Linked DNA regions of Homo sapiens: region 1 is linked to region 2. The links come from fine-mapping of genetic effects on gene expression. A gene starts in region 2. The other region holds a variant in brackets. All regions are shown on one strand. Distances are from middle to middle. Region 1 overlaps INTS4 (integrator complex subunit 4). Region 2 holds the start of INTS4 (integrator complex subunit 4).

Region 1 (4,397 bases), 38 kb after region 2:
CCAGAAGTTAAAACCACACACAAGTGTTTTACTGGGCATCCTTATCCAACCACCCTATCTTCACTTTGAAAATAGTTTAAACATTGCCTGAGAGGACACAGAACTAATAGACTTTTGGAATTCTTCTTTGCAGGCCTGTAAATTACTCTCTGATGACTATGAACAAGTGCGCAGTGCTGCAGTCCAGCTTATCTGGGTCGTCAGTCAGCTCTATCCTGAAAGGTCAGTGTGGGTGTAAGCTGGCTTTTGTTGATTGTGAAGCCGTTTTCCTCTCCTCTCACCATGCAAAAAGCCCACTTCTAGAAAAGAAATGTTGGTTACATTTTTGGAAGGCAATGGGGAATAAGGGAAAAGCACAGGCCCTGAAAATCAGATTGCCTGGTCCTCATTTTTCATCTCTGATAGGAACTTTCTGTACACTTTGGAAAGATACTTCACTTCTTTTATCCTAACCTTCTCATCCATAAGTGAAGAAATTGGAATATCTTTCTTAAATGGTTTTCAGTACTTTACAAAAAAATCTTTAAAATTGTTTGGGACCCATTTTAGTTTGGCTTGTGCCAAATGCCAGATAAAGATACCAGATGAGTTTGAGAATAATGATCTCTTATGTAGTTTTCCTGGTTAAAAATATTTTCACAGCAATTAAATTAACCACAGTGATTCTTTGAGGAGGTAGGCAATATTATTTATTATATTTTGTAAGATAGAATATTATATTTATAAATGTTTATTTATCTTTTATTTATAAATATTTATAGAATATTTTATTTTTCCTTGTATAGGAAAAAGGGGTGTTTTTTCCTGTTCATTAAACTGCCAGAATTTGAAAACCAGAATGAATTAATAAACCTGTAGGAGTAGGCTCCATTTGTAGTGTTTTAGGACTTAGACACATACAAAGAAAAGGGCTAACTGGAAATTGTGTCTTCTTTTAGGACTGGATTGATAAGTAAGTTTTATATTGATTTATTCTGAGATTTACTGTATTTATAGAAGTTCAGTCTGGACACGGTGGTGCCTGTAATCCCAGCACTTTCGGAGGCCGAGGTGGGCGGATCACCTCAGGTCAGGAGTTCAAGACCAGCTTGGTCAACATGGTGAAACCTCGTCTCTACTAAAAATACAAAAATTAGCCGGACATGGTGGCACACGCCTGTAATCCCAGCTACTAGGGAGGCTGAGGCAGGAGAATCGCTTGAACCTGGGAAGTGGAGATTGTGGTGAGCTGAGATCACACCACTGCACTCCAGCCTGGGTCACAGAGCAAGACACTTTCTCTCAAAAAAAAAAAAAAAAAAAAAGAAGTTCAGTTACAGAAGATAATAAACTTAAGGATATGAAATATTCGGTGGAAGCTAGTTTTTGATAATTTCATAAATCTTTGAACCTTTGGTGGGTTACGTACTTTTTTTTTTAAGGCAGGGTCTTGCTCTGTGGCCCAGGCTGCAGTGCAGTGATGTGATCTCGGCTTACTACAACCTCCAACTCCTGGGTTGAAGCAATTCTCATGCCTGAGCCTCCCAAGTAGCTGGAATTACAGTCGCGCACCACCACACCCAGCTCATTTTTTGTACTTTTAGTAGAGATGAGGTTTTGCCATGTTGGGTAGGCTGGTCTTGAACCCCTGGCTTCAGGTAATCTGCCCGCCTCAGTATCTCAGTGTGCTGGGATTACACGCCTGGCTGAACCTTTGGTGGGTTACACACTTTTATTCAATACATTGAAAATTTGCACCTGGTTGCAGTGACTCAGCCCTGTAATCCTAGCACTTTGGGAGGCTGAGGCGGGTGGATTGCTTGATCTCAGGAGTTTGAGATCAGCCTGGGCAACATGGTGAACCATCTCTACTAAAAATATAAAAAATTAGCTGGGTGTGGTGGCATGCTTTTGTAGTCCCGGCTACTCAGGAGGGTGAACTGGGAGGATCACCTGAGCCCAGGAAGTTGACACTGTGGTGAGCAGTGCTCACGCCACTGCACTCCAGCCTGGGCGACAGAAGTGAGACCCTGTCTCAAAAAAAAGCATAATTTGCAATGCAACTGAAAGAGTTGGTTTGTACTCCCAGAGTGATTTGTTTATTCCAAACTGTATTTAATCATTCTAGGATTTGAACTATTCAATTATCATTTTTGTGTGTGTCAGTCTTCATTGACTGTTCTCAGTTTATTGAGCCTGCAGCCTTACTTACTTATGTATTTATTTGTTTATTATTATTATTATTATTATTATTATTATTATTATTATTATTATTATTTTTTGAGATGGAGTCTCGCTCTGTTGCCCAGGCTGGAGTGTAGTGGCACTATCTTGGATCACTGCAACCTCCACATTCCAGGTTCAAGCGATTCTCCTGCCTCAGCCTCCTGAGTAGCTGGAATTGCAGACATGTGTCACCATGCCTGGCTAATTTTTATATTTTTAGTAGAGAGGAGGTTTCGCCATGTTGGCCAGGCTGGTCTCGAACTCTTGACCTCAAGTTATCCACCTGCCTCAGCCTCCCAAAGTGCTGGCATTACAGGCGTGAGCCATTGCGCCCAGACTGTATTTATTTTTCAAGACAGGGTCTTGCT[G/C]TGTCATCCAGGCTGGAGTGCCGTGGTGTGATCTCAGCTCACTGCAACCTTCACCTCCAGAGCTAAAGTAATCTTCCCACTTCAGCCTCCCAAGTAGCTGGGACTATCAGCGCATGCCACCACGCCTAGCTAATTTTTGTATTTTTTTTGTAGAGATGAGGTTTTGCCATATTGCTCAGGTTGGTCTTGAACTCTTGGGCTCAAGCAATCTACCTGCCTGGGCCTCCCAAAGTGTTGGGATTATAGATGTGAGCCACTGTGCCTGGCCTGAGCCTGCAGACTTAGGTTCATGTTTTGTTCTAAGTGATTTCATTTCTTTTCTTTTAATTTAGCATTGTCCCAATTCCTTCTTCTAATGAAGAAATACGCTTAGTTGATGATGCGTTTGGCAAAATTTGTCACATGGTCAGTGATGGCTCTTGGGTGGTTCGTGTTCAGGCAGCAAAACTGTTGGTAAGTTATACTTTTTATGTATGTATGTATGCATGTATATATTTATTTTCTTTTCTGTAGAAATGAGGACTGTGTGGCCCAGGTTGGTCTCAAACTCTTGGCCTCAAGCAGTCCTCCTGCCTCAGCCTCCCAAAAGACTGGGATTATAGGCTGGGTGCGGTGACTCACACCTGTAATTCCAGCACTTTGGGAGGCCAAGGCAGGCGGATCACGAGGTCAGGAGATTGAGACCATCCTGGCCAACATGGTGAAATCCCGTCTCTACTAAAAATACAAAAATTAGCTGGGCATGGTGGCGCACGCCTGTAATCCCAGCTACTCGGGAGGCTGAGGCAGGAGAATCGCTTGAACCTGGGAGGCAGAAGTTGCAGTGAGCCAAGATCACGCTGCTGCACTCCAGCCTGGCGACAAGGGGGAGACTCTCATCTCAAAAAAAAAAAAAAAAGGCTGGGATTATAGATGTGAGCCACTACACCCAGCCAATAATCCTTTTTTTAAATGAGCACATTTCTCATTAAGTTTTTACAGACATTTTGAGAAACTACAGATGGGGCAGTGTGACCTGAATTTAAAACCCCAGAATTTATTTTCCTTTTTCTTTTCTTGAGACAGGGTCTTCCTCTGTTGCTCAGGCAGGAGTGCAATAGTGCAGTCACGGCTCACTGCAGCCTTGACCTGCCGGGCTCAAGCAATCCTTCCACCTCAGCCTCCTGAGTAGCTGGGACTACAGGCATGTGCCACCCTGCCTAGCTAATTTGTATTTTTTGTAGACATGGGGTCTTGCTTTGTGCCCAGGCTGGTCTTGAATTCCTAGGCTCAAGTGATCCTTCTGCCTTGGCCTCCCAAATTGTTGGGATTACAGGTTTAAGCCACTACTCCCAGCCCCAGAATTTCTTAATATAGAAAGAAATAGTTCACTCTCCTGTAGAGAAATAGCCTTTTAGAACTAGAAAGAATCTTAAAACATAATTCTATTAACCCTACTAGGAATTAAGATAGCCGGAGCCTAGAGAAAAAGGAAAACAATAAAAAAAAAGTTTTTCCCATTTATTAAGCACTTGTTATGTCCTAGTTCAGGAGGCTCAAACCCCCAGGCTGTGGACCAGTCCTGGTCCATGGCTTGTTAGGAACCAGGCCACACAACAGGAGGTGAGTGGTAGATGAGCAAGTATTACTGCCTGAGCTCTGCCTGCTGTCAGATCAGCAGCTGCATTAGATTATCATAGGAGTGTGAACCCTATTGTGAACTGAGCATGTGCGGGATCTAGGTTTCATCCTCCTTGTGAGAGTCTAATTCCTGATGATCTGAGGTGGAACAGTTTCATCCTAAAATTACCCTGCTTCACCACTCTTTCTGGTTTCTTCCATGAA
Region 2 (4,397 bases):
GCCCGGCTAGTTTTTGTATTTTTAGGAGAGACGGGGTTTCACCATGTTGGCCAGGCTGGTCTCGAACTCCCGACCTCAGGTGATCCGCCTGCCTCGGCCTCCCAAAGTGTTGGGATTATAGGGGTGAGCCACCGCGCCCAGCCTTTTTTTTTTTTTTTTTTTTTTTTGGAGACAGGGTCTCACTCCGTTGCCCAGGCTGGAGTGCAGTGGCTGGATCTCGGCTCACTGCAACCTCCACATCCCAGGCCCAAGCGATTTTCCCGCCTCAGCCTCCAGAGTAGCTGGGACTTCAGGCGTGGGCCACCATCATGCCCAGCTAAATTTTGTATTTTTAAAGTAGATTTCGCCATGTTGCCCAGGCTGGTCTCAAAACTTCTGAACTAGGTGATCTGCCCGCCTCGGCCTCTCAAAGTGCTGGGATTATAGGCGTGAGCCACCACTCCCAGTTTCCTCTAATTTTAGGAAAGCCTTCCCTGAGGCACTCTGAAGAAATTAGGTCTGTTTGAACCACATTCATTCCCGTTACCCAGCACATTTCAGTTGCACTGTCACCATCAGTTTGGGTGTCTGTCTTCTCAGATTGTAGGACCTTGAGGATAAATACTATCTTTTGTTTATTTTTGGGTCCTCTGTATCCACCTCAGCCTCCTGCTTTTTTTTTTTTAAACTATCCCACATTAATTCTTTTTTTTTTTTTTTGATAACGGAGTCTCGCTCAGTCGCCCAGGCTGGAGTGCAGTGGCGCGATCTCGGCTCACTGCAACCTCCGCTTCCCATGTTCAAGTGATTCTTCTGCCTCAACCTCCCAAGAAACTGGGATTACAGGCGTGTGCCACCATGCCCCGACTAATTTTTGTATTTTTAGTAGAGACGGGGTTTCCCCATGTTGGCCAGGCTGGTCTCGAACTCCTGACCTCAAGTGATCCATCCGCCTCGGCCTGCCAAAGTATTGGGATTACAGGCATGAGCCACCGCGCCTGGCCCACATTCTTTTGAAAGACCAAAATAATGAACAGCTAGTTTCATGTAGGTTGTAAAACTTGACCTTGGATTTACTGACACTAACATGTGCACTACACCTTACAGTCCGTAAAATGTTCCTGCATTATTTCACTCCATTGTCACATCTTTGTCAGGTTAGTTATTATAAATGCATTTGTAGTTGAGCCATTTGCTCAAGAACCAGAGCTGTAGTCTGTAGCTTTGTTGCTTTATCCTTGGTCTCAGAAGTCTTCTACTGTACTATAGCTATCAGAGCAGGGATTGATGCCTTAAAGGATGGCAGCTTTTGCAAAACTGGAATAAGGAAGTATGGAAAGGCACCCCAAAACAAGAGAGGTGGCGCACAGCTTGAACAAAGGCAGTGCTCAGGAAACCTACAAACAGCATCGTGTACAGCAAAGGATGATGGGAAAGTCAGCCGAGCCTCTGAGTTTTTTCACGAGTCGTAAACCCCTTACAGAGCTCCGGGTTTTGCCTCTAGCTCTGGAGCACCCCGCCTCTGCCCTTTAACCTGTACTTCCTCCCTCCCTCCCTTCGCGCCGCGCCGCGCTAGTCTCTTAGCCACTCCGAGGCCACCAACCAGCCTCCCAAAGCTCCCATTGGGTTGCCCACCCTTTCAGTCTCAGCTCCTCCCGCCAGAGGCCCCGCCTCCCACAAGCGAAGCTCTTATTTCCGTTCTTCCGGCGTAGGCCGCCAAATCAGTCCGTACAGTGGCGAGGCAGTCGAGCAACAGGAAGCGGTCGCTCTTTCCCCAAATCCCACTGCCTTGTGGGATCTCGGCAAGTCATCCACCCACCCCCCGCGCCTACGCAAGTTTTCCGGATCCGTCCACCCCCGCCTCCCTCCTAGTGTACGGAAGCTGAGAGGGCCCGCGGGTAGGCATGGCGGCGCACCTTAAGAAGCGGGTTTATGAGGAATTCACGAAAGTGGTTCAGGTAAGCTCTGGCGGGAAAGATCCAGAACCGATCCGGACCAGGGTAGATTATCCAAATCCCAGGCACTTTGCCGGAACAGAAGAGGCTCCATACGCCCGTGTTAAGTGCTGACTTGTTGATAATCTCTGATATTGCAAGTTAGTGGGCGTGTTAGTTTGCAGCCGCTGTTGTCATTAATATGTGAAGTCTGACAGGATTTTAAAAAAATTATTAGGAGAAACAGTGTTTTTTAATTTACGAAACTGTCTTATCCGTTATTTCATTTTATTCTCTCACACAACTTTGCTCCATCGCGTTACATTAGCATCCTCGTTTTCCAGATGTGGACATTGAGCCTTCCGGAGGGGTACGAGGATACAGCCAGTTAGCAGCAGAGCCCCTTCTAGCCTCCCCGCACCCCCGTTCCAAAAAAAAACCTCCCAGGGACCAGTTGGAATATACACAAGGTTCTAAGGGGCTGAAAGAAGGGTCTATAGAATTCCTTCAGGCGCAGTCTAAGCAGGCGGGGGTCACAGACTTCATAGGGGAAGAGCTCTCTATTGGTAGAACAGCTCACCTAGGAAGGAGGGCAGTACCTTCCTCACCATGAAGTTGTGACAGGTGGGCAGAGTCCCTGTCGGGAGTCAGTGATGCTCCATGTGTCTCCACGTAGATGTTGCTAGGGTTGATCCTAAATCATCCTGATGTCCTATTTCTCAGATATTAATGTGTATACAAATTACCTGGGGACGTTGTTCAAATGTCGATTCTATTTGATAAGTCAAGCAGAGGAGGTGAGGCAAGATTCTGCATTCCTGACATGCCCCCAAATTTACACCAGTGCATTGGTTGCATTCTTAGATCCTTAGACTTGTAGAGTGGCAAGGCTTAGAGCATCCAGCAGGATACTGATCCTTAAACATTACATGGATTCATTCATCCAGCATTAAAATATGTTAATACAAATACAAAATATGTCAATACATAATATAAAATTTACAATTTTAACAATTTTAAGTATAAAGTTCAGTGGCATTAAGAACATTAGCACTGTTGCACAATGTGATTTCCTCTCTTCCCAACATTCTGTTGTTCCCATTTCCCAAGACTGCTCAGCCCTCTTCCACCCATCCTCACATGACCAGATATGCCATGTGTTCTTGTGTTTGCATATCTCAAAACTCTTGCACTGGTTGTCTCTTCTCACAGAATACATGCCATTCTTCCCTTTCTTTTTGTTCTCCACCCAGTGGACTTAACATTTGTGCTTCAAGACCCAAATGAAACCTCAGCGAGAGCTTAGTCTCTTCTTCACCTGTTTCTGTAGCATTCTGTGGTACTAATCTATTTGTACTTTTTGTTCAGTGCTGCTGTCATTACCGGTGTACCTATCTTCCCACCAGTCGGAGGTCCTTGATGGCAGAGCTAATGCCTGGCTCATCTCCGTGTCCTGGAGATGGACAATAGGGCCTGGCTCACTAAAGTGTTATTGGTGGTTGAATGACAGTTGATATTGCTTGTCCTCTCCCTTATATAATACTTAGGGAAAAAATTCCTAGCTTTTGACCTAACTACAGCTTCGATAAGACTGAAAACTGAGTTTGAGAGGACTAGGATAGAAATGGCTAAGAATTTTAAGGGAAGAGCTAATTTCTTCACTTAATTTTTCATCAGTTGTTAACATAAAGTGATTAAATGAGATCTTAGTGCTTCTGTTCTTTTTTCTCCGCTGAAAAGATGAGGAGGGAGAACTGATATGTGCCTAGCACTTACATATACGTATAATAAAGTTATGTTTAATAACAGATTTATCGACTAGCTCTGTGATAATAAAGTATTGGTATGCCCTCCTATAGAAGAAGGCCTTCCCCAGCTAGTAAGTTGTAATTGAATACAAATTCCTCTGACTCCAAAGTCCTTATTCTTTTTATCATGTCATACTGTGTTCTTGTCTAGAATAATTCTACTCTCTTTTCTATAGAAATGTGAATTTGTAAGGAGGTGATTGCTCAGTACATAAAAACGCACCATTAGGTGGTAAGGAAATTTATTTTATTTTATTATTATTTTTTAACAGAGACAGGATTTCACCATGTTGCCCAGGCTGGTCTCGAACTCCTGGGCTCAAGGGATCCTCCTGCCTCAGCCTCCCAAAGTGCTAGGATTTCAGGTGTAAGCCACTACGCCCATCGGATATTTGTTTCCTTTTCTTCTGTTTTGAGATGGAGTTTCGCTCTTTTCGCCCAAACTGGTGTGCAGTTGCGCAATCCTAGCTCACTGCAACTTCTGCCTCCTGGGTTCACGCAATCCTCAGCCTCCTGCATAGCTGGGACTGCAGGCATACACCACCACCCCCAGCTAATTTTTGTGTTTTTAGTAGAGATGGGGTTTTGCCATGTTGGCCAGGCTGGTCTTGAACTCCTGGCCTCAAGTGATCCGCCTGCCTAAGCCTCTCAAAGTGCTGGGATTACAGGCATGAGC

Evidence for each region. PIP is the estimated chance that this variant, and not a neighbour inherited with it, causes the effect.
Region 1: its variant is the best candidate, but not a certain one, in a credible set for the expression of INTS4 in monocytes (TOPMed, PIP 0.59).

What each region holds. Positions count from the first base shown.
Region 1 is chr11:77,954,571-77,958,967 of GRCh38, reverse strand. INTS4 (integrator complex subunit 4) reads left to right here. Exons shown (of 23, transcript NM_033547.4): 7 at 134-222; 8 at 2,906-3,026. Among named protein-coding and RNA genes, the nearest start is that of INTS4, 38 kb to the left of the region's middle. The variant G/C (reference allele first, on the strand shown) is at 2,574.
Region 2 is chr11:77,992,130-77,996,526 of GRCh38, reverse strand. It overlaps INTS4 (integrator complex subunit 4), which reads left to right and starts at 1,859. Exons shown (of 23, transcript NM_033547.4): 1 at 1,859-1,937. The coding sequence starts at 1,884. RefSeq lists a silencer at 1,475-1,544 and an enhancer at 1,745-1,944.